7 linked regions of the Homo sapiens genome follow. The protein of the gene in region 5 interacts with the protein of the main gene of each other region in a biochemical or structural test. Each region holds a gene or a part of one and is shown on either strand. Other genes may lie near its edges. The genes, in order: CTNNB1, TRIT1, SH3RF1, CCDC88A, AKT1, TRIM24 and MEF2D.

Region 1 (3,500 bases), on a different chromosome or scaffold from region 5:
GAATTTGAGTGGAATGCTTTAAAAGGACAAGTTGGATAGGGCCCCAGTATGGGGGTCTGAGTGATGGGGTCCAGGAATACATTTAGGTCCAATGGCAAGCTGGCTGAAATTCTTGTATAATAAAATAGGTTGGTAATATGGCTCTTCTCAGACATGTGATCAAGATTCCTTGACTAACAAGATATATATATATATCTTTCTAGCTCATCATACTGGCTAGTGGTGGACCCCAAGCTTTAGTAAATATAATGAGGACCTATACTTACGAAAAACTACTGTGGACCACAAGCAGAGTGCTGAAGGTGCTATCTGTCTGCTCTAGTAATAAGCCGGCTATTGTAGAAGCTGGTAAGTATATGTATCTATTCTGAGTCTTGTGTATAGCATCTGCAGTTCTAATTAGATTACTTTTCTTAGGAAAAGGTGGTAGAACTTTAACTACTGAAAATAAATGGTCCTATTCAGTTTGCAGCCAAGATTTACATTCAGAGTACCTGTCATCTGGATTGTAGCTAAATATTTAAGGCTAGTTTAGGTAGAGTTCTTATTATCCATCAAAAATGATGGCATATGTTTTGCTTAATAAAATTTGTTTGTAATTTCAGTTTTGAGTAAACCTAAGATTTGCTAACAGAGCTGTGAATTTATAGGAGAAAAGACAAATTCTAATATAGTACAGTTTTATGTAAAGTGATTGCTTTATTAGTAGATGCTCATGAGCAGTTTTTGTTTTGTTTTAACTTTTAGGTTCCGGGTAATGTGCAGGCTTGTTATATAGGTAAATTGCATGTCACAGGGGTTTCGTGTGCAGATTATTTTGTCACCCAGGCAGTAAGTATTGTACCCAATAGGTAGTTTTTCAGTTCTTTACCTCCCACCCGTAAGTAGGCCCCAGTGTCTGTTGTTCCCTTCTTTGTGCCCGTGTGTACTCAGTGTTTACCTCCCACTTATAAGTGAGAACATGTGGTATTTGGTTTTCTATTCCTATGTTAGTTTGCTTAGGATAATGGCCTCCAGCTCCATCCATGTTGCTGAGGAAGACATCTTGGTATTTTTTTATGGCTGCTTAGTATTCCATAGTATATATGTACCACATTTTCTTTATCTAGTCTACCATTGATGGGCATTTAGGTTAATTCCATATCTTTGCTATTGTGAATAATGCTGCAGTGAACATATGCATGCATGTGTCTTTATGGTAAAAAGATTTCTTTTTCTTTGGGCATATACCTAATAATAGGATTGCTGGATTGAATGGTAATTCTGTCAGGTTTTTTGAGAAATCACCAAATTGCTTTCCACAATGGCTGAACTAATTTACTTTCCCACCAGCAGTGTATAAGCATTCTCTTTTCTCAGCAACCTCACCAGCATCTGTCATTTTTTGACTTTTTATTAGTAGCCATTCTAACTGGTGTGAGACGGTATCTCATTGTGGTTTTGATTTGCATTTCTCTAATGATCAGTGATGTCGAGCTTTTCTTCATATGTTTCTTGGCCACTTGTATGTCTTCTTTTGAAAAGTGTCTGTTCATGTCCTTTGCCCACTTTTTAATGGGGTTGTTCTTTTTTGCTTGTTAATTTAAGTTTATTGTAAACTCTGGATATTAGACCTTTGTCAGATGCATAGTTTGCCAGTACTTTCTCCCATGCCAGTACTTTCTCCCATTCTGTAGGTTGTCTGTTTACTCTGTTGATTTCTTTTGCTGCGCAGAAGCTCTTTATACTGTCCCATTTGTCAGTTTTTGTTTTTGTTGCAACTTCTCTTGGCATCTTCGTCATGAAATCTTTGCCAGGTCTTATGTCCAGAATGGTATTTCCTAGGTTATCTTGCAGAGTTTTTACAGTTTTAAGTTTTATATTTAAGTCTTTAATCCATTCTGAGTTGATTTTTGTACATCATGTAAGGATGGGGTGCAGTTTCAATCTTGGATGTGGCTAGCCAGTTATCCCAGCACCATTTATTGAATAGGGAGTCCTTTCCCCATTGCTTGTTTTTGTTTACTTGTTAGGTGTGCGGCCTAACTTCTGGGCTTTCTTTTCTGTTCCATTGGTCTCTGTGTCTGTTTGTATACCAGTACCATGCTGTGATTGTAACCTTGTATTAACAGTATAGCTTGAAGTTGGGTAAAGTGATTCCTCCAGTTTTGTTCTTTTTGCTTAGGATTGCCTTGGCTATTCAGGCTCTTTTTTGGGTTCATATGAATTTTTAAATAGTTTTTTTTTAATTATGTGAAGAATGCCATTGGTAGTTTGGTAGGAATAGCATTGAATCTGTGAATTGCTTTGGGCTGTATGGCCATTTTAACAATATTGATTCTTCCTGCCATGAAATAGAATGTTTTTTCATTTGTTGGTGTCATCTCTGATTTCTTTGAGCAGTGTTTTTTGTAATTCTCATTGTAGAGATCTTTCACCTCCCTGGTTAGTTGTATTCCTAGGTATTTTATTCTTTTTGTGGCTTTGGTAAATGGGATTGCATTCTTGATTTGGCTTGCAGCTTGGATGTTGTTGGTGTCTAGAAATGCTTCTGACTTTTGTACATTGATTTTTATATCCTGAAACTTTGCTGAAGTTTATTGGATCAAGGAGCTTTTGGGCAGAGATTATGGGGTTTTCTAGGTATAGAATCATATTGTTTGCAAACAGACTTCCTATTTGGATGCATTTTCTTTCTCTTGCCTGATTATGAGCAGTGTTTTGCCCTGATATTCTGTATTCTCAGTGAATAGATGTCGTCTAAGTATGAGAAACAATTTTTTTCTATTCTGAGTATTTTTAAGAAGGCAACTTATATGTGGTACTTTGTATATTGTGTATGTTGGCAATTGGGGAAAAGAATAGATGGTTTGTACTAGGGCCTCTTGGGTTCTGTGTGTGTGTGTGTGTGTGTGTGTGTGTGTCATGAAAACAGTTACTTTTTAGCTACCAAGCATTTTTTCTCCTTTCAGTAACCCACCTAACAACATTTACTCAGAATTTCAAAGCAAGCTTCAAATCAGTATTGAAAGAAGGAAAAATATAAAGGCATTTAATGGAAGAAAATGTTGGGAATAAAGTATAGGGCTGGCAACACTTACTTTTCTCACTTATTGAGAGTAATTTTACTTGGGAATTTATGAGAGAGAAAGACATTATGATTGCTCCAGGTAACTACTGGCAGAGGAACCATAGTCTTGGGGATAGACAAATGTGGCTGAGTTCATATAGAATGAGGGGATGGGATGTAAATTCTGTCAGCTGTTCCAGCAGTAACCTGTAATGTAGGCTAAAAATACAGATTTTGAGATTTATTTAATCAGAATCCCTGGAGTGTTAATTTTTATATCAAGATCTCATAGTGTTTTATTTGAAGTGACAGGGAGGTCTGTAGATAGCTGGACATGTATGGGACTGGAAGCTTAGGAATCTTTAAGTTCTTCCAGGTTATTCTTATGTTCATTTGTTTATTCTGAAAATAGCATCTAATGTATTTTAAGAAATGGAATAGGCACATAGTA
Region 2 (3,500 bases), on a different chromosome or scaffold from region 5:
GATATTGTACTATGCATTTAAAATGTAACAAAGTAGGCTGCAATTATTTATTGAGGGAGTTGAACTGAAGCAATAACTCAGGGCCTCCCAACCTGCTGAGCTAGAACAACACATCAATCTCCACTAACTGCTATTACCAAATCTCTCTCATCATCTGGGCAAACTGAAGAACTGACTGCTCTCTAGTTGTAAAGGAATTTGGGGTCAGCGCGCCAGGCTTTCTTACCTGGCCACTTTGCGTTTGTCATGTGGATGCAGCTTGGCAGCCATTTCTGGGTCCACCTGGCTTAGGCGTTTGTGAAGTACAAGACCATCCTCCTTTTCAAGCTCCACTTTTCGGTCAATCACTTTCTCAGTGCCCATCTCCTGGGGCTATTAAATGATGGTTTAGAAGTATATTTAATTCAACCAACACTGAGACAGTGTATGTGCCAGGCACTTTGCTAACTGTCAGGAATACAGAATAATCAGAAGATCTTGCCATATAGTGAGAGATCATAAACAGAAAATTCCAATATGCTGTGGTAAGTGCTATGAGGCCACAGCAAACAAAAAAGACAGAAGACTTACAGCATAGGGAAACACCTGGCTATTTGCTTCCCTGTCAGAAGTTCAAACAGGTACCAGGGCTAATATGTCTATTTTAGCATATCCAGGAGTCTAGTCTTCTCAGCAAGGGTGAACAAGGAGACCAGGATTGCCAGTGAATTACAGTTTACACAGTCTTACCCTACATAGTAGCACCTACGTAAATAAGGTCAGTGTTGGACATCTCCCTAATATACATACTGTGCTGCCAGCCAGGAAATACTGAATCAGGCTAATGGCTAACGTACTGGGTTTTTTTTAATATAATTTTTCTAAAGAATTATACATATTTTTTTCTTGAATCGCATCTGTTTTTTTTTTTGAGACAGGGTCTCGCTCTGTTGCCCAGGCTGGAGTACAGTGGCGCAATCTCAGCTCACTGCAACCTCCGCCTCAAGCCTCAAGTGATCCTCCCACCTCAGCCTCCCTAGTAGCTGGGATTACAGGTGCGTGCCACCATGCCTGGCTAATTTTTGTATTTTTAGTAGAGACGGGGTTTAGTAGAGATGGGGTTTCACCATGTTGGCCAGGCTGGTCTCGAACTCCTGACCTCAGGTGAGCCACCCACCTTGGCCTCCCAAAGTGCTGGGATTACAGGTGTGAGCCACCACGCCTGGCCTAATGAACTGTTAATTTATATGGAGATGCTAATTAATCCACACAGCAACATTTTTCCCACACAGAGCCCCTTCCCATAGACCAGCCTGGAGGAACACACTTCACACATGGAGGTGGCATTTGCTTGAGAATATTAAGTAGGAAAATTATAGTTGCTGGGTATAAGAAATAGGCAAGAGTCAACCTTTCTCCCACTGAAATTAGACAGCAAGAAAGAGCAATCCATTTCCTCAGTGAGTTACGAGTGAACTAAACTTACCTTGGTATTGACAAGAACTTTCCAGAGCAGAGATTCAATGTAATAATTGGTTCCTCCCACAACAATAGGAATTTTGTCTCGGGCAAATATATCTTCAATGTGAACATTAAGAAAGATATCACGATATCAAGAGAATCCTGACTCACTTTGGAAGGACACCATTAGCAAGAAACCACATTCATTTATCTGCAGAGCAGAGGAGAAAGGGTGGGAACCAAAATGCGTTGATACCAGCCCTCAGTGTTTCCAACAAATTTCCAGAATCATGTCCAATCAGTTCTGGAGGGACTTGCAGAAACCAGAGACAAATGCATAGTGGTAATTCCTTCCAGTTCTAGAACTTTCTAGGTCTTGCTGCTAAAAGTCAAAGTTTTATTAGTATTCCAAATCAGTTCAATAAGCACAAGCCCAAGGACTCTCACAGAACCAAGTGTCAGCTGCTCAGGAGGCCATCAAGGTGACATCCATTGCATGACTTTGCCTTCTAAGGCAAAACACAAGCTGGTTTCTCTAAGGTTCTTAGACTTAGTCAGTCTCTACCATCATGGAGAGACTATCACATTTTGCCACTTGAGGCTTGACCAAATTAAGTGAGATGCACAGGTTCTGAAGATAAATAGACTTCAATTTCCAGGTTCAGCTCTTGGACAATTACTCAGCCTGTCTGAGTTTCAGTTTTCTCACCTGTAAAAATCCCCATGAGCCTTAAATGTGACAATTCATAGAAATCCCCTATCACAATGCCTAAAAAATAGTAAGCACTCAATTTACTATAGCCACTATTGTTTTTTCATCTCTGCTACTTTAAATTTTTCTCTTTAGAATCTCCGTTGAACAGATAATTATCTGCTTTAAGGCGGCCTTTGCTCCTGAGAATAATTTTTTTTTTTGAGACAGGGTCTCACTCTGTCACCAAGACTGGAGTGTAGTGGCGCGAAAACAGTTCACTGCAGCCTCAACCTCCCAGGGCTCGAGTCATCCTCCCACCTCAGCTCCCGCCACCAAGTAGCTGGGACTACAAGCACATGCCACCACATCTGGCTAATTTTTGTATTTTTTGTAGAGGTAAGGTTTCACGATGTTACTTGCCCAGGCTGATCTTGAACTCCTGAGCTCAAGCAATCCATCCACTGCAGCATCCCAAAGTGCTGAGGTTACAGGCGATAGCCATCGTGCCTGGCCGAAAATAACTTTTTTTAAAAGACTTTCAATATCCAGGTAAATAATCATTTACACATTTCTCCTTGCCAGCCAATCTGCAGGCATAGAGACAGACCACCTCTTTTCTACTAGAATCCCACTAACCCTTAAGCGGCTAAGGCAGGGTGGGAAGAAAGATGTTACCAATCAAGGATCATAAAGAAAAAACACTGTTTGCTTTAAAAAGAGAAAACAAATTCTCTATTTCCCCCTTTAAATTAAGTATAGGGAGCATACAATTTCCACAGTAAGATAAAATGTCAATTATACACAAGTTAAATATCCCTTATCCAAAATACTTGGGACCAAGGAAATGTTTCAGATTTTGAATTATTTGCATTATACTTACTGGTTGAGCATCCCAAACCTGAAAATCTGAAAACTGAAATGCTCCAATGAGCATTTCCTTTGAGCATCATCTCAGCACTCCAAAAGTTTCAGATTTTGGAGTATTTTGGATTTTAGATTTTCAGATGTTCAACCTGTAGTATGATTAACAAAGGGAAAGTGAGCAAAGAAATGAAAAGGGGAAGGGAAAAATGTTAAGATTCCAGAAGAGGAGAGAGTGGAAAGAGGAAAGAAGATGGGATAGGACATACTTCACGGGAAAAGGTTTAACTTATTTGTGCAAGCCATGAAATGACTGTGATATTGAGCAAACACCCTTCTACTCTTTGGGCCTCAGTATCTAGTACCTTCACCTGTCGAATCAAGAAGGCTGATTGGGGCCAGGCGTGGTGGCTCACACTTGTAATTCCAGCACTTTGGGAGGCCGAGGCAGTAGGACCACTTGAGCCCAGGGGTTCAAGACCAGCTTGTCAACATAGCAAAATCC
Region 3 (3,099 bases), on a different chromosome or scaffold from region 5:
TAACAAAGACTGGATTTGGATATGTGTGTCAACCCACTACTGATGGCCCAGACTGGTTCATCTGAGTGACCTTAACAAGGACAGCCATCCTTGTTCCCTACCAGTGTTTGTATCTTGGCCATAAAGGAGAGTTTCATTTCATTTCCCGAGAGGGGTATCATTTCTATCCCTCCCTCTTCTCCAAGGAAACAGGAGTGAATTTATTTGATTGGTGAGACTGGGAGAAGTAGCTGAGCAGGGGGGGTTCAGTCCTCTCTGAACCGCCTGCCCACAGGCTAAGGAGGCTCTGCTCCACCTCTATGTTGTAAGCACACAGAGGTCAGGAAGGTGAGTCTGGAAGTCTGTCTCTGTGTCCCTACGTCCCTTACACTGGTGTTTGACATGGGCGAGGCAGCAATTCTGAGGAAGGTAATCTGCCCCACATACCCAGATTATCCCTTGGGAAGGTAGTCCCAAGGTCCAGACATGGAGGGGAGGGCTATGGCCACAAGTTCAATCCAACATTACCAGTAACGAGGTTGACATTCTCATCTCTATTATTCTGACATTTGGGTCTGTTTCTCCTTGGCTCAGAATTTGGAGTTAGTGGGAAAGGTGTCATTATCGCTTAAAAATGGCAGAAGCTTAGTTGGTTTAATATTATCTGTGCCCCTGCCTCCATGCTCCTTAGCCTTCCTGTGCAGAATTACAGCTTGTAGGAAACGAGAGGGAGGTGACTTGTTTTACACTCTATATCCTTTTATCTTTCTCTATTTTTCCAGCATTATTTGCATTACTCCTCTTCTCAACAAAAGGGGGGAAAAGAATGGTGGTGTATGGTAGCCAACCTCCAAGATGGCCCTAGTGATCCTTGCTTCCTGGTATTCACACTCTTGTGTAGTCTCCTCCTATGATGCACAGGATGACCTGTGTGGCCAATAAAATGTTGCAGAAATGACAGTGGGTGATTTCTGAGGCTAGATCATAAAAGGCATTATGGCTTCCACTTTACTTTCTCTTGGATCGGTCACTCAGGAAAACTGGCTGCCATGTTGTGAGGACACTCAACATCTCTATGGAGAGGAAACACATGGTAAGGCACTGAGGCCTCTTTCCAAAAGCCTAAACTAACCAGAAAAAGTGATGTGAATAAGCCATCTTAGAAGGGGATCCTCCAGCCCCAGTTGAGCATCAGCTCAGGCTGATGTCTTGACTACAATCTCAAGAAATACTCTAAGCCAGAACCAACCAGATGAGCTGTTCCATAATTATGTGACCCACAGAAAGTGTGAAATAATACATGCTTATTATTGTTTTAAGCCACTGACTTTTGGGCGTAACTGGTTACATGGCAACAGATATCTAATAAATACATCTTTCACTGTTTGATGCTAAGTAATGAGTAGTCAGTCATAAAGTTGATTTTGGGTTTCTACTTTCATTTGGTTCTCAAAGTCAGAAAATGAGTGTATAGCCTCGTGGGACCCACTCCTGACTGAAAGTGAAAAATATTATGGCTTCAAAATGATAGGCAGAACAAATTCTATACAACTGTCCCCAAACTTCTGAAACCTATTACAGCCTGCCCCTTTCACCAATTCCCATTCCATATAAACCAAAATCCATTTAAGAAAGACCACAGCAAGAGTCCCAGACTATTACACTAAAAAAACACATCTCTGCAAAAGGTAAGTGGCTGCTTGAACAACCTGAGCTCCTTTGGCACAGGGACCAAATTACTACCCAAGATCTGAAGCAAAAGCACAGCACAGAAGTTGGCTTATCATATCTGAGAAAGGTTCAGCTAATTCAAACATGAATATTCATAGACCACAAGGCTGGGGTTTGATCAAGCATGGAATGAGGAAGGAAGCATGACACAGCGGGAGAAACACTGGCCTAAGGATTGACACAGTCTTTAAGGTCAGTTAGAGCAGCTTAACTTTGGGCCAGTTATCTCAGCTCTCAGTCTGTTTCCTCATCTGTAGAATAGGACTGTAATGAGTTAAACAAGTATGATGCTCTTCGTATGGTGTCTGACAAAGAGTTCAACCTGAAAATATTAGCTCCCATTATGATCATATGGCTTAGACAAGAGTAGGCAGAGGCCTGGCACTTCAAGGAGGTGAAGAATGGGCCAGTCAGTGGCTGGACATCTCTAACTAGGAAACGAACTCAGGCCACAACTCAGGCCTCATTTCCTGAAAATGAGATTTGACAAACTTTAGATCAACACAGTTAGGGTTTTGGAATCCCTTCTTTGATATCTTTATTTTGAGACGGTCTTACTTTGTTGCCCAGGCTGGTGTGCAGTGATGCAATCACAGCTCACTGTAGCCTTGACCTCCCAGGCTTAACTGATCTTCCTACCTCAGCCTTCCGGCTGGGACTACAGGTGTGTGCCACCAAACCTGGTTAATCTTTTTACTTTTTGTAGGGATGGCATCTCACTATATTGCCCAGGCTGGTCTTGAACTCCTTGGCTCAAGCAATCTTCCAGCCTCAGCCCCAGAAAGTGCTGGGATTATAGACATAAGCCGCTATGCCCAGCTCTCTGACACCTTTAAAAGCAAGACAAATAATTTCATCATGAATTTATCTGAAAGAAGGATCCAGATGACATTTCTCAAGTCTAATGTCAACATGCTAAAAATCCATGAAAAAGCAATGATGTAGTTGCCATGTGGGGCAAGTTAAACATTTAAGGCAAAGCTTTATAATTCTGGGAAAAAATGTACAAGTGACTCAAAACATATTCAGAGTAGACTTCTCATGAGATATATTCCCTACTTGTTCTCTGTGAGCTGCCTTAAAGGTGAAATGGAATAAAAATGGTTATTGAAAAACTTGAAGTGAATTAGATTAATATATGCATTTTATAAAATGCACTAAACCAATTTTGTCAAAAAAAAATTTTGAACTAGAACTGCTGCTGGGCTAAGAACATACTCTTCCTGCCAAGTTCCCAGTGGGAGCAAATTTTCATTGCTAAGTTTTATAAACCTCTGGGGGGGCGGGTGGAATGAGAAACTATGTGCATAATGGAAACTGTGACACAGTCTTGATCGTATGAAGACTACCAGGTGCAGGAGTAATAGACTCTACTTAGAAATCTTCCAG
Region 4 (3,500 bases), on a different chromosome or scaffold from region 5:
TGTCCTCTGACCTACCAAAGAGGGAGAAATGTGGTGGCAACCACACTGTCTTGGATATTACCAAATTTGTTTTCAGCTCTTTAATGTTCATTCTCATTTTATGTTTGAGGAAACTGAGAACTGCATAGATTAATTGACTTATTTTTGAAATATTTATTTATTTGAGACAGGGTCCAGCTCTGTCACTCATGCTGGAGTGCAGTGGCACAATCATAGCTTACTGCAACCTCGAACACCTAGGCTCAAGCAATCCTTTCACCTTAGCTGGGACTACAGGCATGCACCACCATGCCCAGATAATTTTTTAATTTTTTTTTTTATTTTTTGGTAGAGACAAAGTATCACTATGCTCCCCAGGCTGGTCTCAAACCCCTGAGCTGAAGTGATATTCCTGCCTCAGCCTCCCGAAGTGCTAGGATTATAGGTGCCAGCCACCATGCTTGAGCATTAATTTTTTTAGAAGTTAAATTATTTGTTTATATCATCCAGGTACAGTCCTCAGACCAGCCATAAAAATGAAGGTTTCTTTAGAGATACAGAACCAAAATTCTAGACTAAGCTTCAATCTTCATTTTTCCAAGCTTGTTGAGATTATTTAACACACTAAATTTTGAGAATCATTGTATTAGATCACGCTATAAATTGGATGAATTAGTTCCCAAATGTACCCAGTGATTTTTGTGATTTTGATGCTTCCTACTTAGAATTCTTTTTGGGAATGAATACACACACATACAAACCCATATATACACATGTAATACAGCACATATTTACTGAGGACCCACTGTAGGCATTGCAAAGGTTACTTAGTAAAAGTAGAACCTTATGTTCTCAAGGAGGTATGTGTGTGTGTTACCTGTATTCCTATTTGAATTTGAAGCATGTAACTGTAAATAATCTGAAGACCATTATGATTAATAGAAAATACATTTCTCAACCGTTCCTTTAAACTGTGAACTTCCTAAAAACATGAACTTTAATGACCTCACAGTAAGTGTACACAGTGGTCTTCAGTAAATGACCTCACAGTAAGTGTACACAGTGGTCTTCAGTAAATACTTGTCAGAATTAAAAGTAAGACATGTTCTAGCACCCTTTTTTTGTTCCCCTTTTCTTGGTAGTTTTTGGAAGAGATAAACCATAGTTAGTTTTTCCTCAATTACAGCTTTTAATTATTTTCTTTTCAAATTAGATTAAGATACTGGAACAGGAAAATGAACATCTGAATCAAACAGTGTCTTCCTTAAGGCAGCGGTCCCAGATAAGTGCAGAAGCAAGAGTGAAAGACATTGAAAAAGAAAACAAAATTCTTCATGAATCTATCAAAGAAACAAGTAGCAAGCTAAGCAAGATTGAATTTGAAAAAAGACAAATTAAAAAAGAATTGGAACATTATAAAGAAAAAGGAGAACGAGCTGAAGAACTTGAAAATGAATTGCATCATCTTGAAAAAGAAAATGAATTATTACAGAAAAAAATAACTAATTTAAAAATTACTTGTGAAAAAATTGAGGCCTTAGAACAAGAAAATTCAGAGCTAGAAAGAGAAAATAGAAAATTAAAAAAAACATTGGATAGCTTTAAAAATCTGACCTTTCAGTTAGAATCCCTAGAAAAAGAGAATTCCCAACTTGATGAGGAAAACTTAGAACTGCGAAGGAATGTAGAATCTTTGAAGTGTGCAAGCATGAAAATGGCTCAGCTACAGCTAGAAAACAAAGAACTGGAAAGTGAAAAAGAGCAACTTAAGAAGGGTTTGGAGCTCCTGAAAGCATCTTTCAAGAAAACAGAACGCTTAGAAGTTAGCTACCAGGGTTTAGATATAGAAAATCAAAGACTGCAAAAAACTTTAGAGAACAGCAATAAAAAAATCCAGCAATTAGAGAGTGAACTACAAGACTTAGAGATGGAAAATCAAACATTGCAGAAAAACCTAGAAGAACTAAAAATATCTAGCAAAAGACTAGAACAGCTGGAAAAAGAAAATAAATCATTAGAGCAAGAGACTTCTCAACTGGAAAAGGATAAGAAACAATTGGAGAAGGAAAATAAGAGACTCCGACAACAAGCAGAAATTAAAGATACCACATTAGAAGAAAATAATGTGAAGATTGGAAATTTGGAAAAAGAAAACAAAACCCTATCCAAAGAAATTGGTATATATAAAGAATCTTGTGTCCGTCTGAAAGAACTAGAAAAAGAAAATAAGGAGCTTGTGAAAAGAGCAACTATTGATATAAAAACGTTGGTTACACTACGTGAGGTAAATATGTTTACCTAAATTAAGGCAAATTTTTTTTTATATTTTTAACTCAAGGTTTCTTTAAGTTTTATTGGAATCTATCAGTAATTTGCATCATTTATTTTATGGTTCAGTAGAATTTTGGAATTAGAACTAGAAATAGCTTCCAAGTTTCCTACTTTGTTAAACTAAGAAATACCTATAAATTGTATTTTTAAAAGAATTTGTAGTAATAAAGTTTCCTAGTGGTATCTGACTTATTACATTATAATTTTAAACCTTTATTTCAATATAATAATGTTTGATCAAGACACTAAATTCTAAGTATAATAAAGAAGCATGATAGCTACTATTTATTGAGTGCTGTGTGCCAAGTACTGGGCTAAAAACTTCATATAAGTTGTATATACATAAATAATATATACACACACACCCAAATATATATACACACATATATACATGCACATAATCTTTACAACTAATCCTTTATAAGTATTATATCCATTTTTTAGATGAGAAAACTGAGGTTCAGAAACATTAAATAAATTAGGATCACACAGCTAATAAATAGCAGAGTTGGATTACTGGATTCAAATCCAGATTTTTCAGACTCCAAAGCCCCATGAATTTTGACCTCAAAGCCAGAGAATGCAAATCAGGTTCAACCATTCAACACTGAGCAACTAGTATTTGCTTGAATCTATGTATCAAGAAGAATTCTGAAACTTACAGGAGTAAATTGGCAGTATGTCCTGTGAAACATGGTTGATGCAAGTCAGAAGGTATATGTTTGGCTCTTTTTTTCCCATCTCTAAGCATTATAATATGTGATAACCCTTTAAGTTCAATTTAAAAGTATATTAGCATTCTGGCAGAAGGTCACATTGGGCAGTCTGCATTTCTGCTAAAGAAGCATTGAGAGGGACCTTTTATTTTTTTCTTCTGTAGACTTATAAACATGAACAACAAGTTCCTTGTGCCTAAACTTCTAAGAACATCCTCTAGTTCTTCAGATCAGTATCATAGGGCCTCTTTCACTGGGAGAAGGGATCTTGTGGGAGAGAAGTATTATAGTCAACATATATTTATAAGAAGAAATGTGCACTAAAGTTCAGGCTCATTATTAAAAAGTAAATGGATATGATTTTCCCCAGTTTTCAAACCTAAATGTGTATTCACAAGTAAAGAGTTACTACTCCCTTTTAAGGTTTTGTTTAAAGTATTAGCAAAAAAAAGGAAAAAAGTTATTTCAACTAGG
Region 5 (3,500 bases):
CCGGGATGCTGGGACCCAGGATGAGGTGCTCTGGGCTCTCGAGAAAGGGCTGGGCCTAGGCCAGGAGTGGGTGCCGGCCGCAGGGGCACCACCTGGACTCCCTCAGGCTGGTCGCTGTCCGAGAGGGGCCGGGGAAGAGCTGCAGGCCTGGCTGCCTTCGGCAGGCTGTGACCCAGCAGGCCAAGGCCGAGTGGGCGGGGGTCGAGGGAAGCTGCCTGGGGCGCGTGGGTTACGCGGCAGACGCTCCTGAGTGTGTGGGCAGCGTGTCCAAGCCACGGATCTGGGTGCCTGGCCGGGCCCGGGTGACACGGGACCGTGTGTCCATGCGGCTCACGGAGGGTCCAGTCTCCGGACATCTGAGTCCTTGCCATGCCCTACCCCGGGCCCATGCCTGGCATAGACCCCCCAGTCCAGGCCTCAGGGCAGCCCCCTCACCACTCCTGCTGAGTTAGCCCCAGGCGTCCCGGTGGGGAGTATGGAGGCTGGTCTCTGACCCCAAGCAGGTGCCTAGGCTGGGCCTCCTTCCCACCCCCTCTCCCCGCCTTGAAGTCCTGGCACTGGCTGTCCCTGCGGGGGGGCACTGAGGCAGGGAGAGAGTGGTTCCTACCCCAGTGTGTTACTTCGCTTTGGTGAGCGACATAGAACCTCACTGCATCCCCAGCTGCTGCTCAGCCATCCAGCTGGTCCTGGGGTCCCTGCGTGAGGTGGGGGACCTCAGAGGGTACAGGCCACTCCCCTTCATCCTGGAGGAGGCCTTGGCTTTGCTGAGTAAACACCCTTGAGAAGAGGTCTGTGGGGGACTCTGAGCCCACTCCAGAGAGCAGCTGCTGCGGAGGGCCCCGCAGGGCTAATTGTTTGTGTGCAGATGGAGGCTGCTCATTACCCCGCCAGGATGAGGGGCCCAGCAGGACCCTGAGGGAGGGAGCCCGCAGACTCTCCCCTCAGCCTGTGGGAACCTTTGGGCTCCAGGCCAGGGCTGCCTGTGCCTCCTGGGCCTCAGTTTTTCCCAGGCTGTCAGGTGAGGGTCAACCCCAGGCTGCGTCTAGGTGGCTTCAGTGTGAGACCCGCGGGCCCTGGGCTGGTTAGTGCCAAGCTCTGCCTCCCCTGGGGGAGCGTTGAGGGTCTGGAACGGCCCCCGTGGGCAGGCCAGGGACAGAGATGGGGAGGCAAGTGTGCTGGCTCCTGGTGGGAGGGCTGGGCAGAGAGTGGGGGTCCCAACAGCCCTGGGCCTACCCGGGAGAGGGGCAGGAGGCACAGGCTGGTGGAGGTCATGGCATGGCTGTGGTGGAGGCCGCCAGCATCAGGGAGGTTCCTGTTTTGGGAGCTTGTTGAGTTCTCACTTCAAAAACAACAAAAGAGGAAGCCGAGGTGGCCTTGAGTGGGGGTGAGGGGTCACTGCTGGCCCCAGCCCTGGACCTTAGCCCCCACGCCTGGTGGCTCCTGAGTGGACAGCTCTTCTTCCTGTGTGTTTCTTGGTCACTGGCCCTCTCTGGGCAGGGATGCCCTGTGGGGGGCTGGACTCCGGGAAGGGAAACTGAGGCCCAGGAGAGTGGACAGAATGTGGGTGGAATGATTCCTGTGCTGGGGCCTAGACCCCCGTACACCTTCCACTCTCAGGAGAAGCCTGGCCGGGTTGCATCAGGCCGGGTTCCTAGAAGTCCTGCACGAGGCTGAGCGGAGGGAACTGGCGCGGCCCCCGCTGGCGTCCCCTCTGCCTGGGCACACCCGGCCCGGCTTGGGGCCAGCACCCTGCCCTCGGGCCCTCCCATAGCTGAGACTGGTGGCTGTGGCTGTGGCTCTGGGCCTGCTCCCCAGGCCACCCTGGGTGGGCAGCTGCCTGCTGCTTCTGTCTGCTTGGACCATTGTGCCTAGTCCCATGGCCTCAGGAGAAGGTTCCCCCAGCCCAGCGCTGGGGCCCCGGGCAGGTTGGCAGAGGGCCCTGGGGCTCCAGGCCAGGATGGGGCTGTTAGGCGAACCCTAGGCCCCTTACTTCCTCATCTCCAACGGGAGTTCCCTTCCCTGCCATGCCGCCTTTAGGTGTGTTTTCCTTGAACCTTAAGGAATGATAGGTTTGGATTTCAGAAACGTTGGAATTGAGGGGGTTGGGAGTTCATGGGTGACTCTGCTGCCAATGTTGCGGGCTTTGGGGTGGGATCCTTGGGGCGCTGTGTTTGGGCTCACACACCCCCCAGGCGGGCCCGGTGACTGCAGACCCCACCCATACCCTGTAACCTGGCGGGCCCACCTGCCCAGGCCCTCAGCTGGTTGTCCAGCTCAGGGGTGGAGACACCCCCTGGGCAGGCCTGGCGGGGAGGTGGCTGCTCCCTGGGCCTGGAGAATGCAGAGAGGCCCTTCGGCTGGCCAGGGTCTGGCTGGCCTCCCCACAGACTGGGGCCAGGGGCACAGCAGCCAGGTGTAGGGCGCGGAGACGCTGAGCTGCACAAGCTTGGTGAGGTGTGGGGTGAGGCCACGGGGGTCAGGGCCACAATGTCCCAGCAGGCCGGGGGATCAGAAGGAGCACCCTCCACAGCTGGCCGTGCTCTGGGGGCCCTCCTGCCCCAGGCGTGGCTCCAAGTTGGGGCAGAAACAAGATGGTGGGGAGATGGAAGGCCCCTCTGTGGCGGGTGCTTCCCATGGTCGGTGTGGAGGACGAGGTCCCTACTGCCTGGTTCCAGTTCCCCCAGCAATGCAGGGCACTTTTCCTGGGGTGTCAGGGATTGAGAGGCCAGCACTGGAGCCCTTCAACCGCCAGGGGCCCTGCCCAAGAGAGACGGGAGGAGGGAGGGGCTGTGGGCATGGCTGCGTGCCCCCGGCCGAGCCCCGGAAGGAGCCTGTGCCCGTGCCCACTTCCTTTCCCGAGGGCAGTGTCTACACGTGGGACACTGTGGCCAGCCCTCCCTCGCAGCAGGCACTGTGTGCTGTCCCCATGCCCAGCTTCCTCCCACGCAGGGAGCGAGGGTGAGGGCCCTGGGAACCCACTGGGTGGAGGGCACTTGGCAAAGCCTGCTGCAAGTTATGGGGAGAGTGGGCGGGGGCAGAGTAGGAGGCGCCAGGGAGGGGCTGCAGCCTCATCTGCAGGGGTCCTGAGTAGGCAGGGTGGGCCATGACATGGGTGGGGCTTGTTTGGGGCAGACCAAAAATGAGGTGGGGGACAGGGACAGGGACAGGGTCTTGGGATGTGCTGGGCTCTGCGATGGATGGGTGTGTGGCAGGTGGGGTGCCTTTGCCGGCCCGAGGGGTGGGTGACGGGCAGTGCCTGTGGGGGAGGACATCCAGGCCCAGGTGGTCTGTCAGGGGCAGCACCAGGGAGGCCCAGTACCCCACCCAGTAGAGCCCCAGGAGAATGGAAAGCTGAGACCCAGGTGCTTCCCTGGAGTGGCAGGAAGAGAGGCCCCAGCGCCTCCGGCTGTGCCTCAGCGAGGTGGACGGGGTCATGGTGGTGCCGCCTGCCCGCACCATGTTCCTCCCGGGGTGTGTGTGTCGGGCTGAGGCCTGCTCCA
Region 6 (3,500 bases), on a different chromosome or scaffold from region 5:
CCATCTCTATTAAAAATAAAAATCATTTAAAAATATAATAAATAACAAAAAGTCATACTGACAAAGAGTTTGGAGAGTGAGTTAATTTACATGTAGTATAAACCAGAGGTAATTTTGCACTTGTCAGTATGATCTAACAGGATTTCTATTATTAAACTTGTCTTCATCTCTTCTGATGTCCAGCCATTCAACGTCCCAGCATATCTTTCCATGTCCTTACTTTTCTCCTTTCCCAGCTTAGATTCCATGATCCATCACCATAATCACTCATTTACAAACACCTTTAACTCCGGTGGCTTGAAAGACATTAGATTATGTGTCCAATGTTCATAATCTTTTTATTTTTACTACTGTTGTAATATTCTAAAGGATTAAAATTAACTTGTAAAAACAAACAACCTATAATCCAACAAATTCATGCCTTCTACCAGATCCAAATTCACTAACAATTTTCTTTCTTTGTTGAGACAGGGTCTCGCTCTGTTAGGCTAGAGTGCAGTGGCATGATCTCAGCTCACCACAGCCTCCGCCTCCCAAGTAGCTGGGATTACAGGCGTGTGCTATCATGCCTGGTTAATTTTTGTATTTTTTGGTAGAGACGGGGTTTCACCATGTTGGCCAGGCTAGTCTCGAACTCCTGACCTCAAGTAATCTGTCTGCCTCAGCCTCCCAAAGTGCTGGGATTACAGGAGTGAGCCACTGCACCCGGCCAACAGTTTTCAACAGAGGCTAGTATAAATTTTGTGTCTACTTACATCCGGAAGAGAGGGAAGATTATAAGACCCTCCCACTGGTGAGCTCAAATCGATCATAGGTGAACCAAAAGCCTTTCCATCATATCCTGCTGCACTAGTAATCGTGGGGCTGGAAGGAGTAGAGGATGTGCTGTTGGTAGTTGATGGGGTTCCCTGTCCACTGCTGATCTGCCACTACAGTAACAAGAAGAGAAGAACAAAGGCTATCAACAAGCTTATAAAATACAACATCTATGTAATCACTCACACAAAATGAAGTAGAAGAGTTCAACTGTAATTTACATGGAAGGAGAATGGGACAGCAAAAGACTGCACAAGTATATATAATTTTCATTAATCTTGTCAAAAAAAAAAAAAAACCAAAACAGTAAAAAGCACTGATTTTTACTGGAAGACAACAGTTAGTATATACCAGAAAATCACAGTACCCAATCTTGGCAGGTTTATACATATTGGAAAAAAAATGTAAATATATACATAGCAACTTCAAGGTAAAGATGGAGGGTTGAAAACATACATTTCTTCTATCCCTATCTGAAATACTTGAAAATACTAAGCTACAGACTGGTACTTTCAGGATTTTATATTCCTCTTCTCATATATGAACAGATAATTAGGCCTCGATAAATATCTGAGGAAAGTACTATCATTCCTGCTGAGATAAACACATTAAGATGATGATAGGCATGCTGAAGTATATAGAGGTGAAGCATGCTGCTGTCTGGAATTTACTCAAAACCTATTGAAAAACATGATGGGCTGGGCATGGTGGCTCATGCCTGTAATCGCAGCACTTTGGGAGCCCAAGGTGGGTGGATAACTTGAGGTCAAGAGTTCAAGACCACCCTGGCCAACATGGTGAAACTCCATCTCTACTAAAACACAAAAATTAACCGGGCGTGGTGGTGGGCACCTGTAATCCCAGCTACTTGGGAGGCTGTGGCAGGAGAATCACTGGAACCCAGGAGGCAGAGGTTGCAGTGAGCCAAGATTGCACCAGTGCACTCCAGCCTGGGCTACAGAGAGAGAGATTCTGCCTCAAAAAAAAAAAAAAAAAGGATGACTTGATGAATGGACAAAGGAATAGATAAACATGTAATAAGGCAAGTAGAACAAAATGTTCCCTATATAATTCTTTCAATTTTTATTATGTTTGAAAATTTTCATGCTGGAAGAAGGAAAGTAACTAAGTGTACTGCAAGATGCCGTATTTTCCAAACATGGTCATTCACAAATGAACAGCACTATATAAAATGTCTGAAACATTCCAATTTTGAAAAACCTAATTTATATATTCCATTGTAGAAACTACATACAGAAACATATGAAGTTGGACATGAATGTCTTCTTTACCACCTACTCCTCCCTCATATTCCCCACCTCTATGCCCCCTTTCCTCCTCCTCTACCAAGAACAATCAGTTGGTGGATCGTTTCAGGTTTTTTTCTATGTACATGATGAGGCTGGAGGAAAACACACATACAAATGAGATAACACCTCACAAAAATTCTATAACATGCTTTTCCTCACGTACTCAGAAAATCATATCTAGATTACTGCATTTTCTTAATATCTGAAAAGTATTCCACTGTATGAGTATACTCTAATTTGTTAAACTCATCTACTACTTAAAAGCAATTTCCCAGTAGATTTTTTCCTGGCTTGTTCCTTTACTTATTCATTCATGTTTACATTTTTGGTCAACAACCATTTTAAAAAAACATGCTTAGAGTATCTACTCATTAAAATACAATAAATAGGGAAGAGGTAAACATTTGAATACTGAGCATGTGCTAGGTGCTTGTATATACATTAGAATAAACTCTCAACATAACTCTGCAAGATACGCATTTTATAGCTGAGGCAAGGGAGATGCGAAAAGACTACGTAAGTGCCACAAAATTATTAGGAAAATAAGTAGAATTTAAGGCCAAACTGAAGCTTGGGTCCTTTTTACTTTCCTTCTAATGATGAAATAATAGGTATGAATTTTATTTTAAATAATTAAAATATTGTTTAAGAGAATTTGGTGATGATATAGCAAAGGCAAATTGATTATACGAAGATATGTATAGACACAGAGTGTACATACTTTTAGAATAAAATATTAAAATGATTTTATTAAAATGGATGTTATAGAATTATGAAAATTGCATCATCTTTATTTTGGTCTTGGAGAAACCAAAATCAGTCTACAATCAGCTAGACAGGCTGTTGTCATAGGAGCTTTGAGAAGAAAAAACACTGTGATAACTTTAAGATAATGTAAAACACAGAAAATATTTTTACCTGAAGACACTAAGTATATAAATAATACAGCCGGGTATGGTGGCCCACACCTGTAATCCCAGCACTTTGGGAGGCTGAGGCGGGCATATCACTTGAGGCCAGGAGTTCGAGACTAGCCTGGCCAACATGGTGAAACCCTGTCTCTACTAAAAATACAAAAATTAGCCAGGCATGGTAGTGGGCGCCTGTAATCCCAGCTACTCTGGAGGCTGAGGCAGGAAAATTGCTTGAACCCGGAAGGCAGAGGTTGCAGTGAGCTGAGATCATGCCACTGTACTCTAGCCTGAGTGACAGAGAGAGACTTTAAAAAAAAAAAAAAAAAAAAAAAAAAAAAAGGAGGCCAGGTACGGTGGCTTACGAGTTTAGGAGATTGAGACCATCCTGGCTAACACGGTGAAACCCAGTCTCTACTAAAAATACAAAAAAAATTAGCTGGGCGTGGTGGCGAGTACCTGT
Region 7 (4,226 bases), on a different chromosome or scaffold from region 5:
GCTCACGCCTGTAATCCTAGCACTTTGGAAGGCCGAGGCGGGCGGATTGCTTGAGCTCAGGAGTTCGAGACCAGCCTGGGTAACACGGTGAAATCCCATCTCCACTAAAACACAAAAAATTAGCCGGGCGTGGGGGCGTGCGCCTGTCGTCCCAGCTATTCGGGAGGCGGGAGGGGAGGCGAGGCAGGAGAATCGCTTGAACCTGGGAGGCGGAAGTTGCAGTGAGCCAAGATCGCGCCACTGCACTCCAGCCTGGGCGACGAAGAAAGACTCCGTCTCAAAAAAAAAAAAAAAAAAATTCGGGGTGTGTGAAGAACTGAGTGAGTGCCCTTCTGTTCTGCAAGGTTCTTTGAGATCTAAGCCAGATGCCATCATTTCCTTACGCTCTTGGGAGAAAGCAGCAGGACTTGGAAGTAACAGGGATGCTGAAGCCTGACGGGTCAGTTGTCCAGTAGGCATGGCACCCACACTCCTGTTGTAGGGCACGTAAATATTCACCACACCCTGGAGCAACCAGGAATATAAAAATAAAAAATTTTAAAGAGCTACTACTGCTTCTTTAATAAGACATTTCTGGGTGTTTACTGTGCGGCGGGAGGTGGGGAGGAATTAGGGTCCCGCCCCTTTAAATTGCCCCCTCGGCAGTAAGTGCTGTGGGGCCCCGCAAGCACTGGAGATTAGGTCACCCAAGAACTATGAGCTGTCGCTTTAAATTGCTGGGCGTCTGCCGAGCCGGGCCCTGGGACCGGAGGGGGCCTGTCACAGGTAGAGGGAGCAACTGAGCTCCCTAGGTAACACCCCCCAACCCCAAGAATGTCGCCCGTGAGTGGGGCTTTGTCACACACCAAGTGGGGGAGATGGGAGCTTTTCACCACTTCCAGTCTCCCCTTAATTTATCTACTTAGACTCCCACCTCCCAACTCTCCTGGGGCCCGGGGCCGCGAGGAGGTGCCGAGGTGGCGCGTGTTGAGAGTGTGCGTGCAGCTCGCACGGCCTCCCCGGAAAGGACCTCCTGGAGCACGCGGTGGCAGCAGCGCCAGGCGGGCGGGCGGGCGGCCGGCGTGCTCCGAGGGGCACCGTGGGAGCGGACCGATCCCTTTAAAGGCCTCTGGGTCTCGCCTCCCTACTTTGCCTCGCTTCGTCCCTTCCTCCCTCCCTCCCGGCAGGCGGAGGGATCCGCCGCTCCCAGCGCCGCAGCCTAGCTTGGGAGGGCGGTGGGGTGGGGGCCGACCCGGCCTGGCCCGGCCAGCCCTGGGGAAGCGAGGGGCGGGGCCGCGTCCTCGGGACCGCCCCAGCCCCGGCTCCGCCCCGCCACCCCCACAGGTGCCTCCCATTGGCCCCCACGCCTGTCCGTCACCCCTTTCCCCCCACCCCTCAAGCTAGGCTGAGCTGTGCCTACGTCGGCCTCGACTCCCGGGGGCTGGAGGAGTTACCTTTGGAGCCCGAAAGGAGGAAGGAAGCAAAATATCAACAACAGCCGAGGCGGCTCAGGCGCTCGGCCCCGGTTCCCCGCTTGCCTGCCGCCCGCCTGCTGGCCCCCGCGCCCACGACGGGGGCCCAGGCCTCACGGCGCCGCCCAGGGCCCGCGCGGACGCCGGCCTCATTTATTATTCTCCCCGCCCGGAGCTGCGGCTTCCCGGTGTTGAAGATCCCCCGGACCAGGGGCGAGGGCTACCCGCTCTTTGCCGTGACAACACCGTTCCCCCAGCCGGGCTGGTGAGTAGAGAAAAATAATGCGCCTGCCACTTTAAGAGGCCCCCTCCCCCACCCGGTCCAGGGGTTGGGGTGGAGGGTGGTCTAGACCGTCCCCCTGAGGGGTGGGATGGGGCAGCCCCCGGGCCGGGAGGAACTCGCGAAGCGGGCCGTGTTTTCGTGTGGCGTTGGCGGGGATTACCTAGGGGACTGTTTGTGTCAGGGAGTCTGTCGTGGGGGACAAGTGGAGTGGGCTGCAATTCCCTTGGGTGTTGGGAGTACGGGGTGGGGACGGGCGGATTGGGGGCGCGCCCGCCTGTTCGTGTAGGGGGTTTACGACGGCCTCCGAGCGGTCTGGGACGGGGCGCCATCCTCCGAGGGGGTCTCCGGTGACAGTCGGGAGCGACTGACATTTTAACAGCCGGCCCTCCCTCCCTCTCCCTCCTCTCGCCGCCTGTTCCCTCCTCCTTGGCCCGAAATGGTGCAGAAGGGGGCCTGGGAGGGCGGCGGGAGGGTGGAGGCGGGGGGAGCCGCAGCTGTTTGGGAAGCGGGGGAGGGAGGGGGGATGTTGTTCAGATGACACCGGGGTAGTGGGTTGGGGTGTGTGAGTGTGTGTGTCTCCGGGGCCCGTGTTTGCCGGGTGCCTGTGGAGTTGGGACGCGGAGTCGCCACGAGGTGGGCACGCAGGACCCTTCCTTGAGACCTCCTAGCCCCGCTTCCGAGACCCCTGATGTGGTTTGTCAGTAACCCCAACTGGAGAACTCCCTGGCCAGAAGTTTGCAGCTGTTCAACATCTGGGCAAGAGTTCTCTAGTCCTTTCCACCTATGGCAGGCGGAGCTGGGCTGCGAGCGGGGGTTTAGGGAGTTTGGGGGGGCTTTTGGGAGGATGGGCCAAGGAGACCAAAATGCTTTTAGTCCCCCACTCCAATGCCAGCTTCTCTCCTACCAGGTTCGGGTCTTAGGGGGATGGGGAAAGGGGCCCCCTCCCCCTAGTGAATCACGCTGTCCTCTCAGCAGCCTTCCGAGGACTCCTCCTGAAAGGAAGGCACTCTAGAAGCCACCGACCGGGTTATCCCAGGTTTGCCCTTCTGAATGGGAGCCTCCCTCTGCCTCCCATTGCTTGGTGCATTGTTGATGGGTTGGGGGAGGGTATAGCGGGTTGGGGGGGATCCTGTGTCCCTCTTTGCTGTGCCCAACCCCCATTTGAGTTTTCCTCAGAGTCCTGGTTTCTTTGCTTTGGGGTGGAGGTGGCCCTTATCCACTCCTCCTCCTATCCCTTCAGTGGGTCTCCGCAGCAATTCAGGGTCCAGCCTAGACTATGGGAAGTTTGCCGTCTGGGGCGGTGACCTTGGGCTGCTCTGGCCTGGAGATAGGAGGGGAGCGCAGGTCAGCCTGAGATTGGGTGTTTTGGCGTTTGGGAGCTGTCCACCTCCCACTCCTCTCCCAACCCCAACAGGAAGGTCTCAGTAGCTGAGGAGAGCATTGAAAAGGCACATGTCAGTGTTCACAGATGTCCACCCGCTTGTGGCCACGGGGTCACACCCGCCCCAGGACTTAGTCTGGCTGTCCCAGCTCCCACGGCCCTGCCTGGGAATGAATTTCCTTCCTGTGGTTTCCCAGTGTGTTGGGCAGGAGATGGGGGTGGGGTAGGACTATTGTGGGAGTGGCTGAGGACCTCTTTATACGGGGTGATTGGGGGACACTGGAGCTTATATGGAGCTCCTTCCCCACTTGCCCCAGCATAGGCATTTGGACCTTTGGGTCTCAGTGATTATATTCTCTTTGTTGTAACTCCCCTGCCCCCGCCAACACACCCTGTATGTTTGCATATGTGTGTATATGTATGTGTGTGCATGTACATTTGTAAAGGGAGAGGTCTCTGGTCTCTCTGGGGGGAAGGGGGGGAGGGGGGAAGGGAGGAAGGGAGGAGCTTTTACTCACCCCTGTAGGGACCCAAAAGGTTGAGTTTTTTACCTGAGATCACACAGCAAATCTGTGTCAGAGCTTTCGTCTTTCCACTCTTTTAGGCACAACTTCATAGTAGGGAGGGATTCTGGGAAGGGAGACATACAGTCCGTGTTCATGGAAGCCCCAGTCCAAGGGAAGAAGCAGGACCCAGAGAGCCTCATGATCCTTGTGTTGGGGGATGGGCATGGGGAATTGGCTAGAGCTTCTGTCTGCTGTACTCAATGCCTGAAAGATTGGTGGAGGACTTGGAGGGGTGGCAGGTGCTGTCCGTGTCCACCCCACTCTGTGCTTGGTGCCCCTGGGCTGGAGGGCCTGGGCATCCTGGCTCTGCCCCCTTGGCTCCTGGTTCTTCTCATAGGCTGGGAGATATGATAGTCTTTCTGGCTGCTGTTATATAATCTCTCTGTAGCAGGGTTTTTTTTTTTTTTTTTTTTTTTTTTAATCTTTCCTGGGAGATGTGATAGGGAAGAGAAGCCAGAGGGAGACTCTTCAGGTTGGGGGGAGCTAAAGGAGCAGTAGTAAGGAAGCTTGGAGTGGGAGGTGCCTTGGCCCCCGAGGAGGCCTTG

The links.
Region 1: of the proteins of AKT1 (region 5) and CTNNB1, one has a biochemical effect on the other in vitro, tested with the Homo sapiens proteins (2 studies listed by BioGRID).
Region 2: of the proteins of AKT1 (region 5) and TRIT1, one has a biochemical effect on the other in vitro, tested with the Homo sapiens proteins (one large-scale study listed by BioGRID).
Region 3: of the proteins of AKT1 (region 5) and SH3RF1, one has a biochemical effect on the other in vitro, tested with the Homo sapiens proteins (one study listed by BioGRID and IntAct).
Region 4: the proteins of AKT1 (region 5) and CCDC88A form a complex in vitro, tested with the Homo sapiens proteins (2 studies listed by BioGRID, with this or other methods).
Region 6: of the proteins of AKT1 (region 5) and TRIM24, one has a biochemical effect on the other in vitro, tested with the Homo sapiens proteins (one study listed by BioGRID).
Region 7: of the proteins of AKT1 (region 5) and MEF2D, one has a biochemical effect on the other in vitro, tested with the Homo sapiens proteins (one large-scale study listed by BioGRID).

The regions. Positions count from the first base shown.
Region 1 is NC_000003.12:41,227,005-41,230,504, forward strand, and holds part of CTNNB1 (catenin beta-1), read left to right. Parts: intron 1-203; coding exon 204-348; intron 349-3,500. UniProt on the Homo sapiens protein: Key downstream component of the canonical Wnt signaling pathway.
Region 2 is NC_000001.11:39,852,505-39,856,004, forward strand, and holds part of TRIT1 (tRNA dimethylallyltransferase isoform 1 precursor), read right to left. Parts: intron 1,565-3,500; coding exon 1,466-1,564; intron 448-1,465; exon of another isoform or gene 373-447; coding exon 227-372; intron 1-226. UniProt on the Homo sapiens protein: Catalyzes the transfer of a dimethylallyl group onto the adenine at position 37 of both cytosolic and mitochondrial tRNAs, leading to the formation of N6-(dimethylallyl)adenosine (i6A37).
Region 3 is NC_000004.12:169,096,858-169,099,956, forward strand, and holds part of SH3RF1 (E3 ubiquitin-protein ligase SH3RF1), read right to left. Parts: intron 1-3,099. UniProt on the Homo sapiens protein: Has E3 ubiquitin-protein ligase activity. In the absence of an external substrate, it can catalyze self-ubiquitination. Stimulates ubiquitination of potassium channel KCNJ1, enhancing it's dynamin-dependent and clathrin-independent endocytosis.
Region 4 is NC_000002.12:55,332,857-55,336,356, reverse strand, and holds part of CCDC88A (girdin), read left to right. Parts: intron 1-1,192; coding exon 1,193-2,263; intron 2,264-3,500. UniProt on the Homo sapiens protein: Bifunctional modulator of guanine nucleotide-binding proteins (G proteins). Acts as a non-receptor guanine nucleotide exchange factor which binds to and activates guanine nucleotide-binding protein G(i) alpha subunits.
Region 5 is NC_000014.9:104,785,749-104,789,248, reverse strand, and holds part of AKT1 (RAC-alpha serine/threonine-protein kinase), read left to right. Parts: intron 1-3,500. UniProt on the Homo sapiens protein: AKT1 is one of 3 closely related serine/threonine-protein kinases (AKT1, AKT2 and AKT3) called the AKT kinase, and which regulate many processes including metabolism, proliferation, cell survival, growth and angiogenesis.
Region 6 is NC_000007.14:138,568,259-138,571,758, reverse strand, and holds part of TRIM24 (transcription intermediary factor 1-alpha), read right to left. Parts: intron 930-3,500; coding exon 756-929; intron 1-755. UniProt on the Homo sapiens protein: Transcriptional coactivator that interacts with numerous nuclear receptors and coactivators and modulates the transcription of target genes.
Region 7 is NC_000001.11:156,497,976-156,502,201, reverse strand, and holds the start of MEF2D (myocyte-specific enhancer factor 2D), read left to right. Parts: upstream 1-1,426; 5' UTR 1,427-1,716; intron 1,717-2,321; exon of another isoform or gene 2,322-2,770; intron 2,771-4,101; exon of another isoform or gene 4,102-4,226. UniProt on the Homo sapiens protein: Transcriptional activator which binds specifically to the MEF2 element, 5'-YTA[AT](4)TAR-3', found in numerous muscle-specific, growth factor- and stress-induced genes.